Linked DNA regions of Homo sapiens. The protein of the gene in region 1 interacts with the protein of each later gene in a pairwise test. Each region holds a gene or a part of one and is shown in the gene's direction. Other genes may lie near its edges.

The links.
Region 2: the proteins of BOLL (region 1) and SEMA3B interact in binary tests that used the Homo sapiens proteins (3 or more experiments, as listed by UniProt).
Region 3: the proteins of BOLL (region 1) and DCANP1 interact in binary tests that used the Homo sapiens proteins (3 or more experiments, as listed by UniProt).
Region 4: the proteins of BOLL (region 1) and SPMIP2 interact in binary tests that used the Homo sapiens proteins (3 or more experiments, as listed by UniProt).

The regions. Positions count from the first base shown.
Region 1 is NC_000002.12:197,775,308-197,782,330, reverse strand, and holds part of BOLL (protein boule-like), read left to right. Parts: intron 1-465; coding exon of another isoform or gene 466-480; coding exon 481-609; intron 610-3,264; coding exon 3,265-3,356; intron 3,357-5,217; coding exon 5,218-5,272; intron 5,273-6,590; coding exon 6,591-6,666; intron 6,667-7,023. UniProt on the Homo sapiens protein: Probable RNA-binding protein, which may be required during spermatogenesis. May act by binding to the 3'-UTR of mRNAs and regulating their translation.
Region 2 is NC_000003.12:50,264,495-50,272,162, forward strand, and holds the start of SEMA3B (semaphorin-3B isoform 1 precursor), read left to right. Parts: upstream 1-4,652; 5' UTR 4,653-4,746; coding exon 4,747-4,855; intron 4,856-5,632; coding exon 5,633-5,790; intron 5,791-5,938; coding exon 5,939-6,001; intron 6,002-6,395; coding exon 6,396-6,515; intron 6,516-6,593; coding exon 6,594-6,687; intron 6,688-6,866; coding exon 6,867-6,986; intron 6,987-7,668. UniProt on the Homo sapiens protein: Inhibits axonal extension by providing local signals to specify territories inaccessible for growing axons.
Region 3 is NC_000005.10:135,444,333-135,452,055, reverse strand, and holds the start of DCANP1 (dendritic cell nuclear protein 1), read left to right. Parts: upstream 1-4,707; 5' UTR 4,708-4,947; coding exon 4,948-5,682; 3' UTR 5,683-7,723. Other genes in the region: TIFAB (TRAF-interacting protein with FHA domain-containing protein B), read left to right, coding at 2,117-2,602.
Region 4 is NC_000004.12:158,969,220-158,976,242, reverse strand, and holds part of SPMIP2 (protein SPMIP2), read left to right. Parts: intron 1-2,931; coding exon 2,932-3,164; intron 3,165-7,023.

The DNA.
Region 1 (7,023 bases):
TTAATCTTGATCCATCAGAGTCACAGGGTGACTTTGTCTGATGTTGGTGTTCTGTTAACAAGAGAACACCACAGCCTAGCTGTGAGTGCCAGGCCAACTCCTAACAACACCAGGGTGTAGTTGATTGTGTCAGGCTGGGACTGTTTTCTCTTTCTCAAACATGTTCATGAGTTTAATATTCCCCTTAATAATTAAGTAATAGGTTTGATAATAATATAAGCATTTTAAGTAATATATTTAATATTTAAAATCTCTATAGTGGAGTAGATTCTGTGTTTCCTAGTTCTGTTGCCTTAAAAAGCTCTTAGCTCTAATTATAATTTTTATAATATTAAAAGTAAAGCCTAGAATACTATATTTTGCCTAAATGACTCTTCTTTTTGAAAAATATATGTTTTTGGTCTGCATCAAAAGCAGACTGCATTATACCCAGTGCAAAAAGTGTAAAAGAATTTTATTTTACAGCAAACATCAAACCAGATGCAAACAGATTCATTATCTCCATCCCCTAATCCTGTGTCACCTGTGCCTTTGAATAACCCAACAAGTGCCCCAAGATATGGAACAGTGATCCCTAATCGCATCTTTGTAGGAGGAATTGATTTTAAGGTACCTATTTATGCATGCAGTAAAGTGTATTTTTTCATTAGAAGTCTTTATTTCTCAGAAATTATTTCTTTGTGCAACTATAAAATAACATATTTGCATAATGATTAACAGATTTTGAATTATCTTATTATAAAGAATCTTTTCAACCAGCATGTAGGTTACATAAAGCATTAAAAACTGTTCAATGTCAGATATAAAGAAATTGATCCTCACTGACTTGCTGTGGGCTGCTAGCCACATAGTGACAGAGTGAGACTAGAAGCCTAGTTTTCTGTCTCATAGCTCCATACTCTTCCATACCAGAACTAATTATACTTTCTTGCCTAATATTCCAATAGCCAAAATAATTGATTATTATAATTTTCAAAAGAGACTCTATTTTTTAAAAACTTACTTTTATGAAATACTATTTCTTTACCCCAACTCTTATCTCAGATTCCTGAGCAACCTCCTAGGCATCTATTCTTTGCAAAGCACTTTCTATGTTAGAATTTAGGATTTGATCACCAAAAAAGTCCTGTGTCCTTGTCAGAATAAAGCATCTTAAAAGTAGTATATTTAAGCAGAAAAAAAAATAACTATTCGGTACTAGGCTTAGTACCTGGGTGCCAAAATAATCTATACAACAAACCCCAATGATGAGTTTATAACAAATCTGCACGTGTACCCCGAACTTAAAATAAAAGTTTTTTAAAAACTAATATATTTATATCATGTAATCAGCCATTCCACTGTTTCAAGAAAGCATAGTTCATGACATGATGTGCAGTGCCCCCCAGCCCACATAGGGGAGGTAAGAGTAAACACCTACAAGAAAGGCATGCATAGATATTTTAAGTGGAATACTCTTACTTTCAAATGGATATATAGAAGGATTTCCAAGCTTCTATTTTACATATTAGAAATTATAGGGAGAGTTATCATTTTCAACAAAAAAAAAACCTTCCTTATGCCATTAGGTGTGATATTTGACATTTATAACTATTTCCATATAACCAATCTGTTACAATTTGGGTGGAATTTCTTTTTTCCTGCACAAGAGAAATGTTACACTTAGTGTATTTGCCAAAACAATGAGTCTTAAACAAGTATATGATTGTTTCACTAAAAATAAAGTAAGAAAAATTATTTCTTATAAAATATTTATTTTTAAAAAGATTTTCTTTGTGGAAAATACTGATAGCTGGCAGAAATGTTCAATTTGGGAATTCATTTATATTACAATAGATTAGCATGTTTTTAAAAATAAGTTATCAATAAATATAAACATTTGTATGGCCAGGTTATTTTAGGTTACTGAAGCCCATCAGCTACAGCATGCACTTTGGAGACGGTTGTTATAATGCAGCCATAGCTTTAAGGTAATTGCTAGGGCTTCCTCCTGTATACTTATACCTTTTTCAAAACCACAGATAAAGGCCAGCAAGGAAATCATTTACTTTAATAGCAAGTAGTCACAGACTTTTTAACCTTTCATTTTTATAAGCAAACAGACTATCCCTCTTAATGCTTACTTTTCTTGACTGTCTCTTTGTCACTAAAGAAGTGGAGCTACAAAATTGAGGTAGTGATTATTCTACCAGAGAATAGTTGGAATTAATTTGTATTCAAATATCTAGTAACAATTCTTATTCTAGCATTGATTTCATTTTCTGTTAACTGAAATAAAAGTCATTCAGTTTTTCTTAGATTGAATCAGTATTTGTCATTATGCAGCTTAGCAGGCTTTATGTTACCAACTAAAAACCAATAGTGTATGTAAGTAGTGAGGTGGCAGTTGAACTCAAAAGGCATAGCTCTGCACTAAGGCATGTCTTTTTGCAGTGTATATAAAGAAATTTTTTTCTAGAGAAAAGTTACTCTTGTAGACAAACAGTTACAGCTAAACCAGGAAATGAAATTGCAATGAATTTAGTGTCAGTATTCTGAGAAAAGGTGATATGAGTCTATTATCAGACTATTTCAATTAAAAAAACAGACATGCCAAAACCATCTTTGTAGACACCTTGTATGCTTTAAATCTAATTATGATTCCAATTTTTATTTTATTATCAAAACAATGTCTGAATTTAGCTGAAATGTATATTGAGTACAGATAAGGAATCTAATAACTTTAAATCTTATAGTCACTCCATTGTTCTCACAGTTGAGTTCAAGCACTTTTGGAAATACATTCCTTTCCTAAAACTGACTTAGGAAAGGAGTTCCTGAGACTACTGATTAAAATAGAATGACTGGTGTAGGCCAACACAACCTAGTTCCACTGCCATGACTGTCTCTGAGCCACAAGAGCCAAAATAGTATTGTACCCTTACTATGGAAATAGCATTCCTAATCCAAATTGGCTTTTTAAAAACTGGCCAGCTAGAGAACAAGAATCATTTAAAGATTTCTTTAAATAGTGAGTTTTGTAGTTTTAAAATAATTCAGCTTACATTTTTATTGGCATATGGTAATTTAACAACATAGCTATTGCATAAAGCAAGATATTTACCTTGATTTTAATCACCTAGTGGTTTATGCACTGTTTTGATGATGAGAGGCATTTTTCATGCATCTTATCTATAACTTTTTCTGTCTCCAGAGCAAGCATGAGAATTATTCATCTTTTATCAACTAAAAATGCTTTTTAACGTTTTCTTTTTATGCCATTAGACAAACGAAAGTGATTTAAGAAAATTTTTTTCCCAGTATGGGTCTGTGAAAGAAGTGAAGATTGTAAATGACAGAGCTGGAGTATCCAAAGGGTTAGTATCACTATAGATTGTCTATGGAATTAGCAACTCTATTTTCATTGGATGACTAGGTTTTGTACGCCAGTTTACTTTGGTTCCATTTTCCAGCAGAGACCATCATGCCCTCTTCTTTCCTCCTACCTTTTGATTTCCTTGTGTGTGTGTGTGTGTGTGTGTGTGTATTTTGGAGGGAGGAGACACTGTAATATTTCTTAATTTGTTGAGAAGTTATTCTTGCATGGGTGGAGGGACCATTCAGTGGTAGGCAGCAAGCACTTAATGTAAGTAGCAGATGTACATTAGCTGAGGAATGAGAAGCAAAAGGAATCAGATTCTTTTGGAATTGTATCCCTGCTTTAGGCCATAGAGAGCTTTATTTGAAAACAGCTGACACCAAGAAATGTCTGTAGGTTGTGCCTCAGAGACCTAATTAGGGGACCAGTATGAGAAATATAATTCTAGTGAGAATGATTTTTAATTGCTATATCAATGATAATGAAAATTGAGAAGAAAGTAATAGACTGTGTCTTTAAATGTGTATAGAGCTGTTTCAGTGGAATGCTATGTGTACAAAGCCAAATTTCAGAAAGGAAAAAGATAGTTTACATAGTACACTCACTTAAGGAGTTGGACTGCAAAGTTAAAAGAAAATAGATAAGGCAGTAAAGTATTGTATTTACTTTCTTGAAAGAGAGACGAGACATACATATTTATAGGCATAAGAAAAGGGACCCATTGAGGTGGTATTGGTGAGAAACAACATTCGACAGATGGATATGCTGGAAGAGATGGGATTCTACAGAAAGGTTATTTATAAACAGATGAGATACTTCCTCAGAATGCCAAACAATATTAAGGTGAAGTGAGATTTACCTCTTTTGTTTGACTAACAGAATTTGCTATGTTTTGGTAATACCATTTTTTAATCATTGGAAAACATACATGGAAATGTAAATGTAAACTGTATTTTATGCCTTTTCCACTGGGTGGCGTGTGTGTTCTACCAAAAAAATAGCGTAAAACTAATTCCTTAACTTTTTAATGTTTGGGCAAATAGATAAAGAGAAATTCCTTTGTTTAAAAGAAGAAACTTTGTATATGATCCAGTAATTATGAATTGAAGAAAATAGTGAAGATATTTAGCATTACTCAGAAGAGTTTACTTAAGTTATCTAAATAGCAATTATGTTTTGAGAGATACATTTTTTCTTTCTTTTGTTACTTTTTTCTCTACCTATTGTGGCTTTTTGGACATGGAGCACATCATTTATGTGTATTTGTATCTTCAACATTATATGAATTGTGCTTGAAGTTAATTATGTATGAAAAACAGATGTGAAATCTGGGTTGTACATATTTTTAATTGATATTGTTTGGGAATATACTAATAATTACATTATCAGTTATATGTGCTAATAATAATAATTAAATAATACATTTACATTGTCATTCACCAATATAAGAAATTTTATTGTGTTGAAATTTTAAATTTTTTAGTTATTTTTCTACTTTGATTTCTCTTAGCCAAACTTCTATTAGTTTAAAAGGAGATTATTGCTCTGGATTGAAATTTATTGCATCCCCAATTTTTAAGCAACAGCATGAATCTCTTGTGCTTTTCTTTCCTGCATACAGCTGAGAGCTGAAGCTGTTTCAAGATCTCAGGGGTTTTTTTTCTTTTAGTTCCTGACTAAAAGTGACAGTGTTAGGCTGTGAATGATTCTTCTAAGATTCCCATGCTAGTGCAGCATAGAAACATGCCTACTCCTACAGTGGCCGATGATTTAAAAACAAAATTTTTAAACATTTTAATATAATTAATATAACATTCTAAGAAAATGATTAATTAGTAATAATTAATGCATTTATTTAGGTATGGTTTCGTCACTTTTGAAACACAAGAAGATGCACAAAAAATTTTACAAGAGGTATGATCTTTTGGTGTATTTAACTTCATTTCTGGAAATTTTGTATTTGAAACTAATCTTTTCGGGGTTCAAATACAATAATCAACTGCTTTTTAAAAAAGGTTTGCATCTTAAGATTGGCATTGGTCTCTAGGAAACTTAATCTGCAGAAGAGCAAATTCCAAAATCACTACAAGTATGGTTGTGAAACTGTAATATAATGTTTCGCTTTATTTACTTAAATTAAGAACTTGGGGATATATCTTTTGCGAAGTGTTAATAGCATTTTGAATGTTTAAAAAACACTACAAATGTGGATTCCAACAGTGAGGTTATCTGAGATGATTTCCCTCCTGTGAAAAACATTATATAAACTAAGAATATTCACAGAAAAAAAGCCTATAGCCAGCAATTCAGTGTAATAACTTTAAGTTAAGGCAAATATAACATTTAACTTTTTTAGAAAAAAAGTAGAATTTGAATTGTATGTTATTAAAATCAAATACAGTCAATTCTTGTTATTTGTGGCAGTTATGTTCTCTAACATTGCTAGGAACACTGAATTAGCAAATGCTGAACTCCTCTTTCTAGGGGAAGTACAAGGTAATGTTCCCAAGAACCTCTGGTCACAATATTGCCATCAACCTATCAATATATAACCTTGTTTTATATGGTTTTCCATTTAAAGGCATCATATATAACAGATTACTGGTTCATTAACATTGAAGCCATGGCCAATAGCACTATAATTCATGCTTGAATTAAGCACATCTAATATATATATTCTCCATAATGCCTATGACAGTCTTCTTGTGCTAGCCAGCACTTCAACAATACACATGGGGGCCATTTTAAATAGCCAAATCACCAACAAAAAGCACAAAAATGGAGAAAACATGGCACTAAATAGAAAGCTCTCTCTTAGAGTATGAGCACTGGAACAAGAAGAAAGAATATCGCCTTATTTGACCTCAACTGGGAGCATGCGCATCAGGCTACTCAAATTTTCCGCCGCTCTTCACGTGTCCACTAATAACCTCAAAATTGCCACAAATATTAATTTTAGGATTACAAGTAAATTTTAGCAAGTAGGCAAATTCACAAATACAGAATCCATGAGTAATGAGGATTGACTGTATTACAAATGGAGAAAATGGGGAATTGCGGTCAGACCCAGATCTATTTCAGTCTGAAGACGGCTCTTTCCCACTATTCCTTGCTGCTTTGAAAGAATATTATAGTCTGAATTTTTGAAATTCTTTCTAACTAGTTTTTCCTTATTGATTTTATAAATAATAGTGCTAAAATAATAAAATAATTTCTTTTTTCTTTATTTTAGGCTGAAAAACTTAATTATAAGGATAAGAAGCTGAACATTGGTCCAGCAATAAGAAAACAACAAGTAGGGATCCCTCGTATGTATTGAGAACTAATGTATTTTTAAATATTTTTGCATGGTTCTTTTTTGAAATATAAGACTTTTTATAGAACTTTATTAAAAGATCATGTTTCTTTCATCTAATAAAGTTATTTTAGCAAAGTTGGTGGAAAAACTGAATATTTTTGCCACAAAATAATATATCTCAATTTTTTTGGCTGGGAAAAAATTTATATACATAAAGATGCTTAAGTATATTCCATGTAGTTACATCATTAAAGGAAAAAAAATCTTTCGTGATGAAAATATCATTTAATATAGCAAAAGTAATTAGAAGTAATTTAATAATTTAGACTTACTAATGAGAAAAATTTTAATTAGAAACTAATTTAAA
Region 2 (7,668 bases), on another chromosome or scaffold:
GCTAAGCGGCAGGGTAGGGATTCAGCCCCACCTCCTGCTGGACTAACAAGGGGGTTGATCCTTGGGGCTGGCTCCAGACTCCTCAGCCCTCCCCCAGAGCATTCAGAGCCCCATACCCAGTACTCCTGGGAGGCTCTCCCCTAGCCAGTTAGGAGAATGTAGTATTTATGTAAATGTCTGTTCATGAGTGCAGTGTGCCCTCAGAGTCCACTTTCCAGCATTCCTGGCATAGCCCCCTCCACCCTGCCGGGCTCCAGAGGAGGGAGGGAGAGGGAGGCCCCGCCCCCAGCCCCCTCTCCTCCCACTCCTCCCTGCTGGGCAATGAGGAAAACAGGAGTGAGGGAAGAGCTGTGATGTGGCTGGTTGGGGGGGCTCCCGCATCCCAGAAGGGCTGACCTCAGCCTGGGAGGAATGTGCAGGAGGGGAGGGCAGGGGTGGGGCAGGCGGGGGTAGGGCCACAGCCAAAGGCCCAGGGTTCTTGGTAGCCCCTCCCTCAGCACCTCCATCTCAGTTCTGACAGGGCCCTCAGAAGGGAAGGGGAACAGGCAAGGAGGGGAGGAGCTAATCTTTCAAAAAAGGTGGGCCAGGGTTCCCTGGGAATGTGGAGACCAGGCTGGGGTGAGGACATGCCTGCAGACGCTTCCCCAGGAGATGCCCCTGGGGCAGGGCCTTAGAGTGTCTGGGAAGTTAGGCCTCAGGTGATGATCCTATGGCCGCCCACGCCTGCCCCCACTGTGCCTAAGTCCTCTGGGCAGCATGACCTGGTACCTACGTGGCCAGAACAAGGAAGAGTTGTGACGTTGGAGCCACAAGCCCTGATGACTAAAGCAGGTGTGAGTGGGGCGCCCAAGATCCCATCCAGTCCAGGCTGCACTGGGAGGGTTGCCACAACCTTCCTCAGATGGGTGTCCCACCCCAACCACACCACCCGGAGTCCAGGCAGGGGCAAAGGGGCAGGCCCAGCTGGTGGCCAGGGGTGGGGAGGCAGGTGCTGAGATTTGGCACAACAATCCAGGTTTTTCCAGAAGGAAAAGCCAAGGCCGTGGTAGGCCATGCCACTGACAGGCAGCCCCAGAGCAAGGACCCAGGCAGGTCTCTGCCCATGGAAGCTCCCTCAAAAGAGAGAGGTCCAGGGTAGGAGTACAGGCAGGAAAAGGGACCCCAGCTGCCTTGCCTGGTTTGCCCCATTCTGTTGAGACTCAGGCTCAGGCTGCCTGATTCCAGAATCCTCGAGGAGTTCCAGCCCCCAGTGTGACCCACAGGCAGTGACCTTGCTCCTGGAGTGCTGACCTCCATGGGGGCCCCTACCCATGGCCTGGCACACTGGACCTGGGGCTGAGGAACAGAAAGGGGACCATGTGGAATCAGGGACAACTTGACCTCCCATCCCTGGAGACCTCCATTCCTACTCAAGGGAGGGTACACATCTAGAGGACAGAGGACAGGGCACAGCACTCAATGGGGACAGAGACAGTCTAGTCCTTTTGGCTGGGGGTTGACTCCCAGGCTATTGGAAAGATAATGGCGGTGGCGGGGGGGTTTCTGATACCGTTTCCCAGAGTGAACACAGGTGGAGGAAGGTGCGGGGTGATGAAACAGAGACAGGGCCCCTGGGCCTGGAAAAACATAAGGCAGTGAGGGCCTATGGGGGCACAGTGGGAGTGGATGGGAGCCTCTGAGGCACTTGCTGATCCTGGCTGCTTGGGTGGAAAGCTGTAAACAGCCAAAGAATGTTGTCTGCTTGCATGGAGCCAGGAGAGCCTGCCCAGGTCCTCTAAGGCTAGAGGCAGCTACTCCTGGAGTAGGAAAAGGCCACATCCAGGAAGCCCACGAGCCCAGGCAGGGATCTGTCCTTCCACTTGCCCTCCTGAAGGGCCCTGCGGCTCCCACTGGCCCCTGTTATTTACCTGCCAGCTGGCCAGGCCAGGCCAGGTATACCAGGTCCTCAGGCTCAGGAAGGAGGGGCATAGCCCCACTTCCACTTCCAGGGGACTTGGAGATGTGCCCCCCACCTCTGTCCTTGCTTGGCTGGAGGCATCCAGGGCTGGGCAACAGAACTGCAACACTTGAAATGCCCACACTGCCCCATCAGCCTTGGGAGGTGGTAGGAAAATGCCTTTTGCGGGGATGGAAGGATCAAAGCCCATTCTCAAGCCCTGGTATATTCACTCAGGTGGACTTCAGGGCTCCACTCTGCCACTGTCAACATACAGTCCCTCCAGAGAAGTACCCCTCATGTTACAAATGGGGCACGTTCACCAGACTCAGCTTCAGGACAAGACCCCAGGTCATTCCCAACTGAGGCTCCGAGGTGCAGGAGCTCCGTCCTGTCTGTAAAACTCCCTCAGTTTTCGGCTCTGGGTTTGGTGGGGGTTGTTCCTCCCACCTCCAACCTAGAAAGAGAAGCCAGAGGAAGGGAGGTCACATGGTCTGCCCCCCAACCTCTCAGCAGAGATGCAAAGCTACCTGTCCAGGATGGCGGACTCCAGATGGGCCCCGCCCTGTGGTGCAGAAGTGAGATTTGCTGCTCCTCCTGCGTCTGCCCCTCTCCTGCCCTCCTCTCCCTCCCCTATCTGGCTGTCATGGTAGAAGCCACTGCTGGCCAGGCCACTGAAGTACTAAGTGGCCCAAGTGTTGAGGAAGGATGGGGACTGGGTCCTGAGGGCCCATCCGACCTCCAGTTGAGAGCCCCTCCCCTGACCTCCAGCTGCCCGGCCACCCCAGCCGGTCCCTGGGAACTGAGGTGGCAGCTGAGCTCCCCATTATCTTTCCCCACAGCTCCCCACCTGTGGAGGGAGAGGTTGAGATATTGGAGTCCACGGGTGGTGCCCCCACTCAGTGATTCCCTTTGCCTGCTGAGCCCCTGGAGCTGGGGTTTCTTCCTCCCTTGCCTTGGCTGGCCACCTGGCTTCTGGGACCGCCACCTGGGGCACCCTTCTGCTTTAAGGCCCAATATGGGAGGGGTCGTCCCTACCAGCCCCTCCCTTGTGCCCATTCCACTCCCGCCTGGCTGCCGTCTCCAGCTGGTCCCGGCTGCCTGCCCGGTCACCCGATCCGCCCTCTAAACTTTACGGCACGGCGGGCGGTGCGTGGGGCGGTGGCTGGCCTGGTGGGGGCGGGGGCTGCTTCTTAAAGGAGCCGTCAGAGGGTCCCCAGCGGCCCCAGGGTGGGAAGGGGCCAGAGTGGAGAGATGCTGCTGCGGAAGTCCTCGGTGGAGTGTGAGAAGGCAGCCAGTGTTGGCCTGGAAGACCTCTAGAACCTGAGAAGAGGCAGCGGCAAGTGTCAGCGGAGGGAAGGAGGGAGGTGGGGGTCCTGGCCTGGGATGGGGCCAGGAGCTGGGCAGGAGTGTGGGTGGAGGGGCCTGGAACCTGCCTCAGCAGCTGCTCCACTTGCTTAATCCCACCTGGAACCTTGTCCCACTCCCTGGGCTCCTGTGTCCAGCACCTGCCCAGCTGACCCCTGGGAAGGAGGGTGGGCATAGCAGCCAGGTCTTTGCCCCAGCTGAGGGCCAGGGGGAGGTGTCTGGCTCCTAGAGTGAAGGGGCTCAAAGATGGGGAAGAACTCAAGGGGTGAGAGAAGTGAAGGGAGAGGCTCAGAGAGGCTGTGGAGGCGTTGAGAGGGAAGGCCAGCTCAGCGAGGCCAGGAGGCTGGGGTGCAAATGAAGGGCTGCCTCACCTTGCCCCTCTTTGATTCCTCAGGGGTGTGGAGAGAGAGCCCTCAAGCTCAAATGCAGAGGCTGCTTCAGCTGGGTTGGGAGCAGTCCCCAAGTCAGAGGCTGAGGCTTCTGCCCAGGTCTTGGGTCTCCTGGGTAGCACTTCTCCCTCTGAGGAATGGAGTGATTGATGCTGCAGTTGGATTTGCTCACTTGCATGCCCAGAGACATGTCTATTCTTATGGGTGCACACGTTTGCACATGCACAAATGTGCAACACATCTGTGTGCAAAATATGCACATATCACACATATGTACTGCATGGATTGCACAGTGCCACATGTGTGTGCACACCAACCCATATCCACACATGTGCAATATGACACACTATATATTTGCACATAGATGTGCACACACATGCACATACACACTACACACATGCGCACATCACAAGGGGACACTCGGAAACACATTCACAGGCACCCACACCCTTGGCTCCAGCCTCAAAAGTGTCTCTGTGTTTTTCTGCGGGACTGTGGGGACACTGCCACCTCCAGAGGCCTGACCCCCTCCTGTCACTCTCACTCTTTTGACTGGCTTGTTTTGCTCATTGCACTTGGCACCCTCTGCATCCATCTGATTCCTTGTTGGCACTCTGTCCCCTTTCACATGGGGACCTTGTCTATGTCTCCCAGTATCCCTCCTCCCAGGTCTAGGCTGGCATGAAGTGGGTGGCACATTGTGAATTAATGTCTGTGAGTGTGTATACAAGAGAGGAGATTACTGGGAAGGGTGACGTGGTGAGGCGGGCTTGCCAGTGCAGGGTGACCCTGAGGGTGTGCCCAGTGGCGTGGGTGTGTCTGTGATTGTGGCCAGGCGGGGCACCCTCGGAGGGGAGGGTTCGGAAGTGGAATGCGACCCCCCAGCCTCTTTCCCCTAGGGGCTGTAATCTGATCCCTGGGGACTCCCCCCCTAGCCTCCCGCCCTCGCCCTCACTGCTGACTCCTCTTCCAGATCCTGGGGCAGAGTCCAGGGCAGCTCAAGGCTCCTCCACACACACACCCGCTGAACCCTGAGCACCCTGAGCTGCTGAGATGGGGCGGGCCGGGGCTGCCGCCGTGATCCCGGGCCTGGCCCTGCTCTGGGCAGTGGGGCTGGGGAGTGCCGCCCCCAGCCCCCCACGCCTTCGGCTCTCCTTCCAAGGTAGGTGCACCTGGCAGGCGGGAGGGCCCAGCTTGAGGTGGGCAGGAAAGGGTCCCCGTATGGCCAGGGGGCTCTGTGTTGGCTGTTGCCCCATGTGCGTGCCTGTCACCAGACTCTGGTAGGATTAGTGGGCACTCTCAGGCCACCTCCAGTTAACCCTGTCCGGGCCTCAGCCCCCAGCCTCTGCCCACATTCTCTTCGTGCTTTCTCAGGAAGACCCCTCCTGTCCCCACAGCAACAGACCTTGTCTCTGTTCCGTTCAGTACCCCCAACAAGGCGATACTCCTTCAGCAGAGCAACAGGGAAGTCAGAGCCCCCTTCTCATGCCTCCTGTATAGGAGGGTGGCCCCTGGGCAGTGGCAGTGAATAGGCAGTTCTGCTGAGCTCAGGCTGGTGGTGGAGTGGCAGGAAAGGAACTCTCAGCCTGACTTTTGGGAGTTGGGGTTCTGGCCATCCCTGCATGCCAGTCTCCCCCAGGACTCTGGTGTCCATAAGCCTTGCCTCCCAGTGCGCCCGCCTGGAGACACCACCTGTCTGAGCATGCCCAAGTTCAACCTGCCTTCCTCTTCCTGGGGGGATGTACCACCTACCCTGGCAGCTCCACACGTGCACCTGGGTGGGCTTGGGTTTGCGTGTGTAAACTCACACACATGTAAACTCACATGTGTACAGGCCAGGTCCTAATGGCAACCTTGGCCGATAGAGTCACCACCAGGCAGGACCTGGGGGAGGCTTCCAGCATGGCTGGCGAGTCATCAGCAGTGTCCTGCCCTGCAGAGCTCCAGGCCTGGCATGGTCTCCAGACTTTCAGCCTGGAGCGAACCTGCTGCTACCAGGCCTTGCTGGTGGATGAGGAGCGTGGACGCCTGTTTGTGGGTGCCGAGAACCATGTGGCCTCCCTCAACCTGGACAACATCAGCAAGCGGGCCAAGAAGGTGCCAGGGACTCCCAACCCCAGCACTCCCCAGGGAAGGAGCCCTGGGACCCCACTCCAGCCTGGAGAGACCCAGAGGAATGGCTCCCTGAGGTAGAGAATATCCCAAGTTCCTGACCTGTGTCCCCTCTCCCCCAACCTCCCGATAGCTGGCCTGGCCGGCCCCTGTGGAATGGCGAGAGGAGTGCAACTGGGCAGGGAAGGACATTGGTGTGAGTGCCAGCTGCCCGGGCCGGGAGTGGGGAGGGTCAGCCCCTCACCCCAGAGACAGGGCAGGGCTAAAACAGAGGCCTGCCTGTTCTGGCTGGGATGAGGGCAGGGAGGTCGAGGTGGCTGAGGTCTGGGGGTGGTGAGTCAGGGTGGGGGCTCGTGTAATTCTTCTGGGGTGCCTCTGAGTCATGGGAGGCTTTGCAGGCCTGTGCTTCCCCAGACACCCACCCTCGTGAGGCCTGGGCTGGTCAGCAAGGGCCCCCAGGTCCCTGTAGCCCATGTTAGTACTTGCCTGGGCTGATGCCGAAGAGAGGGAGGGGTGAGGATGCCACTGGTGAGCTGGGACCTCTTAAGGCTACGTCCCTGGGGGAAGCCTCACACCTCCAACCCTACTAGACTGAGTGCATGAACTTCGTGAAGTTGCTGCATGCCTACAACCGCACCCATTTGCTGGCCTGTGGCACGGGAGCCTTCCACCCAACCTGTGCCTTTGTGGAAGTGGGCCACCGGGCAGAGGTAAGGCCGGATCTAGGCAGGGAGGGAGGTCAGGAGGGTAAGAAGGGCCTGGTAGTCACAACTTGCCACACCTCCCAGGAGCCCGTCCTCCGGCTGGACCCAGGAAGGATAGAGGATGGCAAGGGGAAGAGTCCTTATGACCCCAGGCATCGGGCTGCCTCCGTGCTGGTGGGTGAGTCCAAGGGCTAAGGCCCCAAGAGAACCCCTTAGAAACTCTAGAACCTCACAAAGTCCCAAGACCCCCAAGAGCTCCAGGGAATCCCCCATAACCTCACTCACTCCCAGAGCTCCCCAGGCCCTCCTGCCCCAAGAGCCCTCCATTTGCCTGAGTGGCCCTTGCTCTGTCTGCAGGGGAGGAGCTATACTCAGGGGTGGCAGCAGACCTCATGGGACGAGACTTTACCATCTTTCGCAGCCTAGGGCAACGTCCAAGTCTCCGAACAGAGCCACACGACTCCCGCTGGCTCAATGGTGAGAGGCTGGTGGGGTTGGTGGGTAGAGGTCGTCACCCTCCCACAGGGCAGGTGCCAAGCAAGGCCCATAAAGTAAGTGAGCAGTGGGTGTGGCCAGGTCTTACCAAATACCCTCCTTAATCAGGCACTGGCGTCACAGAGACAGACAAGACAGGTATGACCGTGACCTCTTTGAGTTCACAGATCACATACATGATAAGATCAAGTCCAATGGCCTTGAGGCCAGAGAGAGACAAGGGAGGAAGGGAAAAGGAGACTGGGTGGCTGGAGGGGGTTGGGTAAAGGAAGCCGCTGTGCTGAGGGGAGTATGAGCTAATTCCCAAGCACAAGACAGCTAGCCAGCAAAATTTAGGGATGAGCATTCCAGGCAGAGGGAGCATTCCAGGCAGAGGGAGCAACTAGTGCAAAGGCCTGGATGCAAGAACAAGCAAAGGAATAGACTTGCAGAGCTAGCAATGAAAAGGGGGCCTGGACTGTCAGGGGCCAGAGTCATTTATTCTAAGAGTCATGGGGGCTGGGCACAATGGCTTGCACCTGTAATCCCAGCACTTTGGGAGGCTGAGGCAGACAGATTGCTTGAAGACAGGAGTTTCATACCAGCCTGGGCTACAAAGCAAGACAAAAAATAAAATAAAATTAGCTGGGGGCAGTGGCATGCACACACCTGTAGTCCTGGCTAG
Region 3 (7,723 bases), on another chromosome or scaffold:
GAACACCTGGGATCCAAAAGACACGGGACAGCCTGTCGTGGATGGGCTCCTCTTTAGTGGGAGATTTCTGTTAGCTCTGGTTGGAGCAGAGAGTAAGGCCACACAGCAACTGTGAATCTTTCTTCCTGAGGGATTCTTTCAGGGTCTCTGTGCCGTGATATTAGTTTCTGGGAGTGAACTCTTGAGTTTCCAGCCAGGCCTGACAGCATGGGTTGCCCAGCCCACCTGTCCTGGGCTCAGCCTGTAACGCATACCTCGAGAAAAGGCTTTCTGGCTGGGCGTGGTGGCTTACGCCTGTAATCCCAGCACTTTGGAAGGTCGGGGCGGGCGGATCACCTAAAGTCAGGAGTTCGAGACCAGCCTGGCCAACATGGCGAAACCCCGTCTCTACTGAAAATACAAAAATTAGCTGGGCATGGTGGCGGGCACCTGTAATCCCAGCTACTGGGGAGGCTGAGGCAGGAGAATCCCTTGAACCTGGAAGACGGAGGCTACCATGAGCCAAGATCATGCCGCTATACTCCAGCCTGGGTGACAGTGTGAGACTCCATCTCAGAAAAAAAAAAAAAAGAAAAAAAAGAAAGGCTTTCGGCAGACTATGGCCAGATGGGGTGTGGGTAGAGGCATATGTGTGTCTGTGCCTTAGGGGAAAGGGGGTGCCCTCAGGCCTCTGATAGTGAAAGGGTGCCCTCACTATCAGACTAAAAGGTCTCAGCCATTAACCTACTGCATCTAAAAGGCAGGAGGGGCAGCAGGTTCAAGACCTGGAGGGACATTGAGTTCAAGCCACCTGCAACAGGCTCGCTGTCCCACAGCCTTTGAGACATGATCCCATTTGTGGTCTCTCTGGGTGATTTCACCATGTGTGTGTGTGGGCTTCTCATTTAGCCACTCGGCAAATGTGCCCCTGGACATTTATGGTGGCCAGGCCCTATTTGTATGGGGCAGTGGAACATGGGGCAGCAAGAACCACAGCCCAGACCATACCCAGCCCTTGGGAGGCCTCAGGGGCAGGAAGAGAGGAACTCAGGGAAGACAGGACAAGGGCCCACAGAACTTGGGCATGAAATGCAAAGATGGAATGAATGGAGAGTAAGGTTGGCCAGGTGTCCTGGGGGATTCCCCCTGTTGTGGGAGTCAGAAGGCAGCGAAAGGTCACCTTCCCCAGGGAAGGGAGCTTCACAGGAGAGGTAACACTTGAACAGGGCCTTGAACCGTGGGCAGTATTTGGACACAGAGTTTGGGATGGAAGATGCATTCTTAGGAGAGAAATAATGTGAGCAAAAGCCTGGTACCCAGAGAATGTATAATTAGTTATTCAAATCCACTCAACCCTTGGTTCCTGTTGAAGATGATGGCAGGTCCTGGGCCACAGGGTGCTGGTGGACATAGCAGAGTTTGTGTTCCTCAAACCCATGCAGGAACAAAGCTGGCCATTGTGAGTGGCCTTCCAGCAAGTGCCCATAGTAACCACTCGGAATGTGCTAGCTGTTTACTCTTCACCAGGGTTTCTAGGCAGCCTTTCTGGTGGCCAGGACTAGGCTAAGCATCCTCCTTCTGTGTCCTTCCACACATCCTGATGCTAGAAACACCTCTCTCCTCCACCAGTGGGTGCTCCCAAGAGTCAGGGCTCGGTTCGTTGTTGAATCTGCTTCTCCCCAGCAGCTGGTTCCCTGCTTGGCTCAAAGGAGGATTCAGCAAGGGTTTGTTGTGTGACTGTCAGATACAAGGAAAATGTAGCCAGTCTGTCTACCCTTTCCTTTCCAAGAAGCAGGGCCAAGTTGTCTCCAAATAACCAAAAGATTACCAAATCCCCACCCTGCAAGCCAGCATGCCTTATCCCTTGCATAGACAAGGACAGATATATCTATACTACAGAAATCCAAAAGTCAGACAGAGTGGGTGGCATGTTCTATTCAGAGTATGAGAGAGACTAAGCTCATGACCTTCCACACCAATTCCAGCCTTGGCTCCATCCTGGCTTGGGCAGAGTGATTGTATGAACAGGCACAGGGCCCCTGAGGTGGGCAAGTGTGTCTGGGCTCAGGGAGCCACAGAGGTCTCTGACTGAAGCTGAGCCTGTGTGTCCATGTTCCAACTTCCCAGGACTTCTTCCATGGAGAAGCCCCTCACCGTCCTGCGAGTGAGCCTGTACCATCCCACGCTGGGCCCATCTGCCTTTGCCAATGTCCCACCACGGCTGCAGCATGATACCAGCCCTCTGCTTCTCGGACGGGGGCAGGACGCCCACCTCCAGCTGCAGCTCCCTCGCCTCTCCCGCCGTCACCTGTCCCTGGAGCCCTACCTGGAGAAAGGCAGTGCCCTGCTGGCCTTCTGCCTCAAGGCCCTGAGCCGCAAGGGCTGTGTGTGGGTCAATGGGCTGACGCTGAGGTACCTGGAGCAGGTCCCCCTGAGCACCGTCAACAGGGTCTCCTTCTCAGGCATCCAGATGCTGGTTCGCGTAGAAGAAGGCACATCCCTGGAGGCTTTTGTCTGCTATTTCCATGTCAGCCCTTCACCCCTGATTTACAGACCTGAGGCTGAGGAAACTGACGAATGGGAAGGCATCTCCCAGGGGCAGCCTCCCCCTGGTTCAGGGTAGCAGATCCAGGTTGCCTGGGGTTTCTCCACGGCCCTTCCCAGACTTGGGACAGCCCTCTCCAGCCAAGACCTGGAGGAGGAACAGAAATACAGCTCCAGAGGGAACCCCCAGACAGTGCACTCTGCTAGCCCTGCCACTAGAGCAAGCCTTTGCTAGATGAAACAGGATTTGAAATACTTGAGCTGCATCATGCAAGGTTGACAAGCAAAACCCACTGGCTGCCTTGCTCATAATGAACCAATTCTGCAAACACCGAACAAACAGCCCAGGGGGGAGAAGCACCCTCTGTGGCCAGAGCTATGCAATGTAATGGGAACATCATATACTTTTAGAGGCCCTGAGGGGTTCTGGGGAGCCTCTCTCAGCATTTCCACACATTTCTCCCTGTTGTCTGACTAGGAGTTACTTTATGTGGTTCATTTTGTGTGCTGCTTAAGAGCAGGAGTTTGAGGTTGCACCAGGAATGCGTGGACACATGTAACAATTACATTTGTGGTAGCTTGGGGTTACCTTCAGCTTTCAAATACCCACAGGCACGCGGGGCTTAGGAAAGCCTGAGTGTAATAAACTGCAAGTATTTCATTAAGCTGGCATACCCAATAGGATTCCCTGATCCCCAGATGGGCCACATGCACGCCACGCTGTCATGCAGACGTGGGGGTGGGAAATATAGACGAGGTGTAAGAGGAAATTGGAAAGGTGGGACTCACATTTCTGGAAAGGATGCAGGCAGGGCTCAGGGTTTCCTGAGGATGGGAGCTGGGAGCTGGGCCTGCCTGGAAATTCATTGTCCCCCTTATCATCCTCATCCTCACACTCCGCATTCTCTGTCACTTCTGGATCAAGGCCTTGGTTGACTTGAGGGCAAGGTCTTTAGGGAATGAGGGGATGGGGTGGGGGTTTGTGTAAGAACTCAGCCCAGCAGTTATTTCGCTCAGGGTGAGTCACACACCAATGGGGGTGGGGGAATTCCTTCCAAATAAGGGACTCGTTAGGAGCCAGGTACGCCAAGGGCAGGAGGATTTTCTCGGTGAACAAGGGCAGCAGCTATTTGCCACGCCATGCTGAGAAGGGGAGAGTGTGGTTTAGAAACAACGTTCACTAGTGTGATGCAGGGAGGGATCTACATGGTCACCATGATCCCAGACCCCACTCTCCAGGGAATCTGAGGCACCAAGGGCACAGCCCTGTTCCCCTGGCTGACTCGAATCTCTGGGTCTGTAGCTGTCAACAATTTCTGTTTTCTGCCCAAAAGGATGATCGTTTTGCACCCAGGGCAAGCTACAAGGAGGTCCAACTTCACTCACAGGCCCTGAGCATCTTCTCCATCAGGAAAACAGAGGTGGGCAAGACCCAGGCTTGCCCTGGTGTGGGAAGCTTCCTCTCCAATAGGGATGAAGCAAAAACACTCAGATCACAGCCACAAGGCAGGGAGAGCAGGGCTGCTAGGAAGGGGCTCTCTGATGCTGTGAATGACCCCTTGGGACCCCCAAAGCAGTTCCTCATTCATTCAGCAAACCTTCACCAAGCACCCACCTTGTGCCAGATCTGTGCAAAGCCACGGAACTGAACCAGAAGTGAATAAGGCAAACTCCCTCAGGGAGTTTACCTTGCACTCAGGAAAGTCAAGCATTCAGGAGTGCATTACTTATTTGATCACTACTATGATTAGTGCTATAGTCATTGTATTTTTCTCTCTCCTCCAGCTGGGCTCACATTCTCTTGTTAAGTGGCCTTGCCTGTTGAGTGCCTACCATGTGCTTAGCACTCTGCTAGGTGCTGTGTGTATTAACTGCACTTAACAGATAAGGAAACTGAGACTTGGAAAGGTTACATATCTTGCCCAACATCACACCATCAGTAGCTATGCGATTTGGGCAAGTGATTTAGTCTGCTCTTGCCTCTATTTCTCCCGCTGGAAAATGGGTAAGATAATAGTACTACCTGCTAGAGTTACGAGGGTCTTAGAAGGTGACACCTGTAAAGCATTCAATCAGTGCCCAGCACACACTTAATAAGGGTTAGCTACTATCATGAGACCTGAGAGAGGAGGGCTCACCATCCACACGGAGCTAAGGAAGACTCACACCCCAGTAAGCTGGCTCCAGAACCCAAGGGCTTACCTGTGCTCTGTGATTCCCCAACTAGGGATTTAGTTGTAGCCACGGACCTGGTAGGCAACAGGGAGGGGATTTTAATCTGCTCCTTGCATCAGAAGGTCCAATAGGCAGGGTTAGTATAATGGGAGATGCCCTGGTAGGGCTGGCAAGGAGAAGAAGCCACATGTATTTTGGTCTGATGAAAAGCAGCAGTGATCTGTCACTGACCAAAATGGTCCCCCAACTATGCATTACGGAGCAGCAACCCACATACAGAACTCGAGAAGCCACGGCCTGGAGACTGTACCTGGACACCAAAGACTGGAGAGAGGAGCTGGTGGGGAAACCCCAGAGTTCCCAGGGTGCCACTCCCCAGCTCCACCAGAGAACTTTGGGAATGAGCTGCTGCCCCTGAGTGCCCCTCTCCAGGGCCTCAGTGAGGGTCTCTACCCTCCAGGGAGGAACAAAACCTTGCCAGCTGGGGTCCTGCGAGAGGGGGCAGTTCAATTCCTCCACAGGGGACTCTGCAACTCCAATCTTTCGAGTGAAGCATCTGCGAGGCCCTCAGGGACCCAGGATGAACTGCATAGCAGCAGAAGGAAGACAGGCCAGACCAGGCGGGAGGGAGCCCGGAAACATCTGGTTTGTAGTTTCAGACTCTACCCGTTCACAGTTCACACAGTCTCACCGGGAAACTCACACCTTGCCCTGTACCAAGTTTTTAAGGCAGTTAAGCTCTGCCCATCCGAGACTTCATTTTTCTTGAGTAGAAAATCACTGAAATCATCAGATCCATGGCACCCACCTTCACTTTCTCCTAACAGCTGGAACCGTCAGGCTGGCTTCAGGGCCTGGTCTTCGCACTTGATATCACTATCCCTCACCTGCTCAGACAGCCAGAGCAGGCGGGTGAGTTCCTCCCAACAACCTCCACTGCATTCTCTCAGCTCCCACCGCAGGGCAGCCCACGTGCCTGAGTGAACATGTGTGCGTGTGCACACACGCAAGTATGCACAGACATACACTAAACACGAACATACAGTGCACATGAACGCTGCTCCCAGCTAGGGCCCTCTGGTCAGACTGCTGCCTGGGTTAGAATTCTTGTCCCCACCCCCACTTACTATAGTTCTGTGATCCTGGACAAGTAACTGAATCTCTCCGTGCCACAGTTTCTTCTTGTAGAAAACGGGAAAGTTCACAGTACTTACCTCCTTAGAGTCATTGTGAAGGTCAGTTTGAGGCATCACAAATTTAAGGCACCCAGACATAAGGGTCAACAGGGTTAGCTATCACTGTCCAGTTTGGTGGGAGGAACTGAATGCATGTAGGCACATGGACCCAGTCTACACTCAGGCACAAAAGGAGCTACATTAGTTACATTCAGGCATACCCCAGAGCACTACAATTCTCTGAGACATTGTCTGGAAATCTAGAAATCATCTCCTTGCCCTTTAAGGTATTTTAACCCTCGCATTCCTCTGCTTTTCCAAGAATGTGAATCTTGCCAAGCTGTCCGTGAGAGACACGGGCTCCCCTCGAGGGAGACTTGCAAATGCTCCATAAACAGCCACAGTGTGGGGCTCTGCCATGAGGAAGTCACAGCAGACACGCTAGACAGCATAGTCCTGGATGCAACCTGGAGGAAGGGAGGCCCATGGTGGAGCACTCACTCCGTGCCTGTCTGCCCGGTGAGACCTCAAGTTCCTTGCAGACAAAGGCCATGGGTTGTTGGCTCTTGTGTTCCCGGTGGCCTTTCCAGAGCTGAACAGAGGACAGATGCACAGACGGGGGGGCTCTGGTGGTCAAGGCAGCAGTCCCCTTGGATACTAAAGTCTGAGCCAGGCCCCTCAGGCCCGGCATGGGCAGTGCGAGGCCCATAGTGGTGGGAAGCCAGTTGGCCAGCTGGGGTGAGAAGGCCGCGAAGCCATGGGCAGACAGGAAGTGGAGGTGAATGTCTCTGCCTCCTGTAGGCCTCAGCAGGGACAGCACAGACCCTCTGGCTGGGGCAGCGCAGACCCTCTAGCTGGGGCAGAACAAGGCTGGTGCTTCCTTCTAGTCCTTGAGACTTTGTAGCTCTAACTCAAGCAGAACCCTGGGGTTTTGGGATTCTGTGTGGTGACTGCTGAGGAAGGTTTATGGATTTGACAGGGTGCATGTCACAGAGAGACAGTTCTCAGTCAGCACTTCCTGTCCCCTGCAGAGGCTCATAGGGGACAGCCCCTGCCAAGGAGACCCTGGAGGGGCTCTGAGGATAGCAATCAGAGGTTGGGCTGGCTGGACTGAGCCCAGGCCTGTTGCCCACCAAGTCTCCATAGGTTCTAGTCTGACCCCTCTCTCCACCCCTGGGCTATGCAGGCCAGCCCGTGCAGACCACCCCCGACGCGTCCACTTGCAACACCCGCCTCACTGTGCCAACACTCCATCCACACAGGAAAGGACTGAGAACGTGATGCTTAACCCAAAGGAGTGAGTTTCATAGGATGGGTGGCTTTAACAGTTTCACAGCAGGACACTGAGGGAATATTTCCCTATCCCTTCAAATGGACGGTCACTACAGAAACGTGTAGAGCAAGACTTTGTCAAGGGGCTGTTTCCAGGTCTCCCGGTGTCTAAATAGCAGAGCTGGAATGGGAACTGAGAACCGATTCTTTCCACAACCGCCCACTGAGCAGCAAGGCTGCAGCCAGCAAAGAGGTGCGGAGGCAAGCAAGCTCCATGTGGTGGGGACAGCGCATTGCGACCTCCACCACCCCTGCAGTGGGCTGCCAGCTGAGCCACCTGTCTTCCACTGTATCTACTGTACGAACTTCTCCAGCTCTGCTCTGTTTTCTCTTCCTCAGCATCCACCCCGTGACACGTAGTGGTGGCTGATGTCGCCACAGTACCATGAGGTTAACAGGTCCTCCCTCCAGCTTCCCTCATGGTGGCAGCCTAACCTGCATTGCAGCCGTTCACCGGACACCGCACCAGACCCTCAAAACCCATCCAAGACTGTGGGAGGAGTAAACAACCCAGCCCA
Region 4 (7,023 bases), on another chromosome or scaffold:
TTATCTCTCTTTGCAGATGACATGATTATATAATTAGAAAACCCCATTGTCTCAGCCCAAAATCTCCTTAAGCTGATAAGCAACTTTGGCAAAGTCTCAGGATATAAAATCAGTGTGCAAAAATCACAAGTATTTCTATAAACCAATAATAGCCAAATCATGAGTGAACTCCCAGTCACAATTGCTACAAAGAGAATAAAATACATAGGAATACAGCTTACAAGAGCTGTGAAGGACCTCCTCAAGGAGAACTACAAACCACTGTTCGAGGAAATAAGAGAGGACACAAGCAAATGGAAAAACATTCCGTGCTCATGGATAACAAGAATCAATATCATGAAAATGGCCGTACTGCCCAAAGTAATTTATACATTCAATACTATCCCCATCAAGCTACCATTGACTTTCTTAACAGAACTAGAAAAAAACTACTTTAAATTTCATTTGGAACCAAAACAGAGCCCACATAGCCAAGACCATCCTAAGCAAAAAGAACAAAGCTGGAGACATTACACTACCTGACTTCAAACTATAGTACAAGGCTACATAACCAAAATAGTATGGTACTGGTATCAAAATAGATATGTAGACCAATGGTACAGAACAGAGGCCTCAGAAATAACACCACACATCTACAACCATCTGATCTTTGACAGACCTGACAAAAACAAGCAATGGGGAAAGGATTCCCTATTTAATAAATGGTGTTAGGAAAACTGGCTAGCCATATGCAGAAAACTGAAACTGGACCCCTTCCTTACACCTTTTACAAAAATTAACTCAAGATGGATTAAAGACTTAAATGTAAGACCTAAAACCATAAAAACCCTAGAAGAAAACCTAGGCAATACCATTCAGGACATAGGCATGGGCAAATATTTCATGACTAAAACACCAAAAGCAATGGTAACAAAAGCCACAATTCACAAATGGGATCTAATTAAACTAAACAGTTTCTATACAGCAAAAAAAAACTATCATCAGAGTGAACAGGCAACCTACAGAACGGGAGAAAATTTTTGCAATCTATCCATCTGAAAGTGCTAATATCAAGATGCTGCAAGGAACTTAAAGTCACAAGAAAAAAACAACCCCATCAAAAAGTGGGCGAAGGATATGAACAGATACTTTTCAAAAGAAGACATATATGTGACCAACAAACATATGAATAAAAGCTCATCATCACTGGTCATTAGAGAAATGAAAATCAAAACCACAGTAAGATACCATATCACACCAGTTAGAATGGCGATTATTAAAAAGTCAGTAAACAACATGCTGGAGAGGATGTTGAGAAATAGGAATGCTTTTATACTGTTGATGGGAGTGTAAATTAGCTCAAGTATTGTGGAAGACAGTGTGGCGATTCCTCAAGGATCTAGAACTGGAAATACCATTTGACCCAGCAATTCCATTACTGGGTATATACCCAAAGAATTATAAATCATTCTACTATAAAGACACATGCACACGTATGTTTTTTGCAGCACTATTCACAGTAGCAAAGACTTGGAACCAACCCAAATGCCCATCAATGTTTTACTGAATAAACAAATTGTGGCACATATATACCATGCAATAACTATGCAGCCATAAAAAAGAATGAGTTCATATCCTTTGGAGGGACATGAATGAAGCTGGAAACAGTCATTCTCAGCAAAGTAACTCAGGAACAGAAAGCCAAACACTGCATGTCCTCCCTCATAAGTGGGAGTTAAACAATGAGAACATATGGGCACAGGGAGGGGAATATTACACAAGGGGGCCTGTTGCGGGTGGGGGGCAAGGGGATGGATAGCATTGGGAGAAATACCTAATGTAGATGACGGGTTGATGGGTGCAGCAAACCATCATGGCACATGTATACCTATGTAACAAATCTGCACGTTCTGCACATGTATCCCAGAACTTAAAGTATCATAATAAAAAATTCATTTAAGTGATCTTTACCCAGACCTTCTCTTGTTTCTGCTTTTTTCACCTATTTCTATAATTCATTGATTTTTTTTTTTGTTCATTGTTTTACTTTTAAAATACAAATACTTCTGCCTTTGGTAATCTGTTATAAGCTACCCTCATCTAACAATTTTCTCCATTTTTCAATTTTTGCTAATACATTTTCGGAGTATTCTAATACACATTTCAGATTTTTATCTACCTAGATAAAACACCTCAATATCTGAAGGCCTACATCCTGCAAATGTAGCATGGGATAAATTTTAGTATATATCATGTCTTTTTTTTTTTTTTTTTTTTTTTGAGGTGGCCTTGCTCTATTGCCCAAGCTGGAGTGCAGTGGCACAGTCATAGCTCACTGCAGCCTCCACCTCCTGGGCTTAAGCAATCCTCTTACCTCCATCTCCCAAATAGCTGGGACCACAGGTGTGTGCCACCATGCCTGGCTAATTTTTATTTTTTGTAGAGACAGGGTCTCAGAAGTTATCCAGGCTGGTCTCAGATTCCTGAGTTCAAGCGATGCACCCACCTTGGCCTCCCAAAGTGCTGGGATTACAGGCATAAACCACCACATCCAGCCCATGTCTGTATTAAGTTGATTATATACAAAGCAGTTTAATGGGTCAATTAAGAGCCCAACCTTCGCATCAGCCTGTCTGGGTACAAAGAGCTTGTTAGCTATAATTCTGGACAAGTAACCAATCTTTCATTTTCCCCATACATAAACTGGGGAAAAAAATTCTACCCGTCTCATTTGGTTATTAATAAACATTAATTAACAGATAAGCATTAATAAGAATTATTAATTATAAATAAGTATTAATAAGAATTAACATGTCTAAAAGGCTTATAATAGAACCTAGAACGTAGTAAGTACCATATAATTATTGGCTATTAGTATTTCAACGGTTAAAATAACAAAAGTATCTTAGAATAAAGTGTGGAGAAGTTTTAAGTACATTTTGTCTTTTAAAGGTCCAGACTACATAAAGGATTATTTACCCAAAATTCATCAGCACACCTCCTATGTAGGAGAACAGCATCTGGCGTTAGAAAAAACTGGAGATCTCAGATATTTATGGAGGCCTGCCTCAAATAGAAGCTTGCCAGCAAAATATAAACATGAGTACGTCAGTGAAATTGGTTGGAGAATACCACAGTATAATTTTATCAACAAATCAAGACTGGGGAGTGGCTTTCATATCAAGGTATTGCTCTTAAATTTATGCTTTTCATAGTATACTGTTTTCTAACTTGAATTCTTTATGAATTTGCTTCCAAAGGAAATGTCGGGTGCTTGATTTCTCATTGAGACATAATGAGGTTTGAGTTTTGCAGAAAGACACATGTGTGAATAAATGCATGTGCTCCACTCCTGGAGCCCTTTAATACATCAAGGGAAGGGTATGAGGAAAACAAAGCCATGGATAATCCAAAAGCGTTTGTGTTTGTCTTTGGAATGTATTCTGATTCACATTCAGGCTGAGGCACTTGCACACACTCTTCCCCCATCCTAGCACTGCTTCATGCGTGGACGATGGAAAGAAAGAAGCCTGTGCTGGGCATCCCATAATCCACAAACCTAACACGTGCATCTCAGATCTTTAAGATTCACTGTACTGATAATGCCTTCGTATCAAGTATTAATAATTCAGGGTATGTTGTCAGAGGGTTTTAGAAACCTTGTCTTATTTCCTTTTGGTGATGTAGACATAGGCATGAGATCCTGGTGTCTCCCCTGAAACAGAAGAGTGCACAAGGGATTTTAGAAGTAAAATCTGAGAATTTGGATATTTTTTTCCAGACAGGCCTGTGCATTGTCTGAAAATTAAATGTATCAATCATGCAATAACTGAATTTCCTCAAATTCTTAAGTTTCATCTGGTAAAGGTTAACAAAAGGAAAAACCATTATTTATTTATTTAGAGACAGGGTCTCACTCTGCCGCCCAGGCTGGAGTGCAGTGGCACGATCTTGACTCGCTGTAACCTCGGCCTCCTGGGTTCAAGCGATTCTCCTGCCTCAGCCTCCCAAGTAGCTGGGACTACAGGCACATGCCATCAGGCCCGGCTAATTTTTGTATTTTTAGTAGAGATGGGGTTTCGCCATGCTGGCCAGGCTGGTCTTGAACTCCTGACCTCAGGTAATCCACCTGCGTCGGCCTCCCAAAGTGCTGGGGTTATAGGCGTGAGCCACCACACCCGGCCAGAAAAACCTTTTTCTGGCCCAAACTATGGCAGTCCAGGAGGGTGGATGGGAGCACAGTCTTTGAGGTTACACTCTGATTTAGGTCTAGCTCTGTGACCTTGGGCAAATCAGTTCACCTCTCTGCATCTTTGTTTGCGCCTCTTCTACATGGCAGTATTCAGAGGCCCACTTCACAGGATCATCTAAATTTCTATCCTAGTTCTGCCACCTACTAGCTGTGTATGGCCTTGGTTAAGTTCATTTGCCTCTGTGCGTCAGTGTCTTCATTATGAAATCTTAGTTCTAGGATATTTTTTCTAGGCAGGCCTTTGCATTGTCTTTGCTCAGGTAACAGGCTGTTGTAAACAGTGCATAAGTTAATATTAGTAAAGCACTAGAAGCAGTAACTAGCATGTATCAAGCCCTATATGCGTTTCATATTGTTATGTTGTGAGGACTATATATGAGAACCCAAGGAATGCACTGAGCGCGATCCTGGCACCAGGCTGACATCCAGATTTTAGCTATTAGTACTGTTGTGGTTGTATTTCATGTAACTCATTAAATTTAGTATGATATTATATTTAATGTATTGTAATATGTTTAAATGCCAGGGCCAAGAAAAGGCACTGATGATAAGCAACGTCTCTTACAGCATATTCCAAAGAAGACCAGTTTCTGAGTGACAAGCTGAGTATAATGAATGCTTAGGTTCTTAAACTGTGTCCTATTCCACTTAGGCAATAAAAATGAAAATCCAAGATTTGATCAAATATCAAACTAACCACCAGCAAGAAAAGTCCAGCCCCAAAGCAAGGCGGCTGGGTTGAATAAAGTCCAGAACTTTTGTTGTCTTGGTGTTTCTCCTTGGGTGATGATGTCCTGCTCTCGGACACAGCCCTCAATCTGTCAGACCATCTTGAGTGTGTATAGCCTCTCTCCCTCTTTATCTTTAACTTAACCTATTTTTCTGCTCAAATGAAGTGCAATCAAGCATTCCTTGGTCTTCAAAGCAAGCTGGGAATCCAAAAGAGATGATAGCTGTGAGTTAGCCTTCCAGGAATGTATTTATTCTGTATCTCTAGTTAGTATTTCATGGATTGCTTTTAATCACTGCACTGCTGAGTAACGGGGTCCTCTTTGTCTCTGAGATTGTGAACCAATCTCACAGTGAACCAATCACACAGTGATTTTCTTCCCCAGCTGTGGCACGCTCAGAAACTGCTTGGAATATACTATAAGAAATGTTGCTTCTCATCTGTGCACTTTCTTGGCCCCAGTATTTTAACAGTAATTGTTTTCAAGGGTCTAGCTGTCTCAGATAACAATCTTGAACAATACCTTAAAGCTCCTTGGACTTAGAGCTTTAGAATAGGAAAAAAAAAAGATTCACTGAGAATGACCACACATACCAGCACTGAAGCATCTATAATTTCCTTAACAGTTAAGATCTAGGTTTTGTCACTGGGTCTACTCATCTCTCCCTCTACATCTAAGGCATACTGCTCTCTCTTTCCATCTAAGGCAGATCAAAATCTTTTTTTTTTGTTTTTCTTTTTTGAGACAAGGTCTCACTGTGTCCCCCAGGCTGGAGTACAGTGGCATGCTCATAGCTCACTGCAGCCTCCATCTCCTGGGCTCAAGCAATCCTCCTACCTCGGCCTTCTGAGTAGCTGAGACTACAGGCACATGCCACCACACCTAGATAATTTAAAAAAATTTTTTAGTAGAGACAAGGTCTATGTTGCCCAGGCTGGTCTCAAACTCCTGAGCTCAAGTGATCCTCCCACCTCGGCCTCCCAATGTGCTGGGATTACAGGTGTGAGCCACCGTGCCCAGCTCACAGTGTCATTTTTGGAGTGTAGACTCAGACTTTTGATTCCTTATCAACCCTGTGCTTCAGGCAGCTACTTCTAAAAAATCAGACTTGGTGCGTGAATTGACACTTGAGCCGATACATACACATACACTCCATGCATTCAAACATGCTCCTAATTACAAAGACTATACAAGAGTGGTGGCATTAACCCAGGGCCGCCCTCACAAGGGAACTGGTAAACTTCTCAGTGTGGTGTCACTTTGAGAAATGTCTCAATCCACTTCCTGTTCGTTCTCCAGTTTCTTATCTGTCTATAGACCCTTTCCATATCCCTTGCTCTTCCTTGTCCCATAATAATCCAAATCAAAATGGTCACTTCTTGTTTTAGTCTAACTGCAGAGACTCCTCAGTGTCTCACATGGCAATTGCTCAGAGCTTGGATTTTAAGCAAAACTTTCATCTCCTGGATTTTTATAGCTCTAACAGCTGTTCTGCCTAATTTACTGCTCCAGGTTTATATAAGACTGGCGGTTAAGGATGCTCAGGCACCTCCAATAGAGTCTTGGTAAAATGCCTGGAGCAGCTGCCTCCTACCTGGGAATGGTTTCTCCTATTTGGGGCACTAGGAGGGGTTCTGCAGATCATCTGGCTTTTTGCAGGAAGATAATAACTTCCATGCTGAGTGACACCTGAAAATCTTCCCCCACGTTGCGGAGGTCAGTAAAAATCACAAGATCGAGTTCCTCTTCCAGATTTTTTAATGTTTAGCTATTTCCTACTGACTCTTACATGGGTTACAATGCAATAATAATAAATGTATGTATAAACAAGGACAGACCATTACTTTCATCATCTCGGATTTAAGAGCAGCACATTCTTTAAAAAAAAATGGATTTGGTCTTTATCAAACTATATATGTTGTTTCTGCAAGAATATATGGAGACAATTGAAACAGTTTCTTTAGTTTCAATCCCGTGCTAAACTAAGGAACTTTTCTAACTGCTGCTTAGCTGGTTGTATCTCCTCTCCACTGGCCTTTCTTTAACCCCAACCTCAATGGG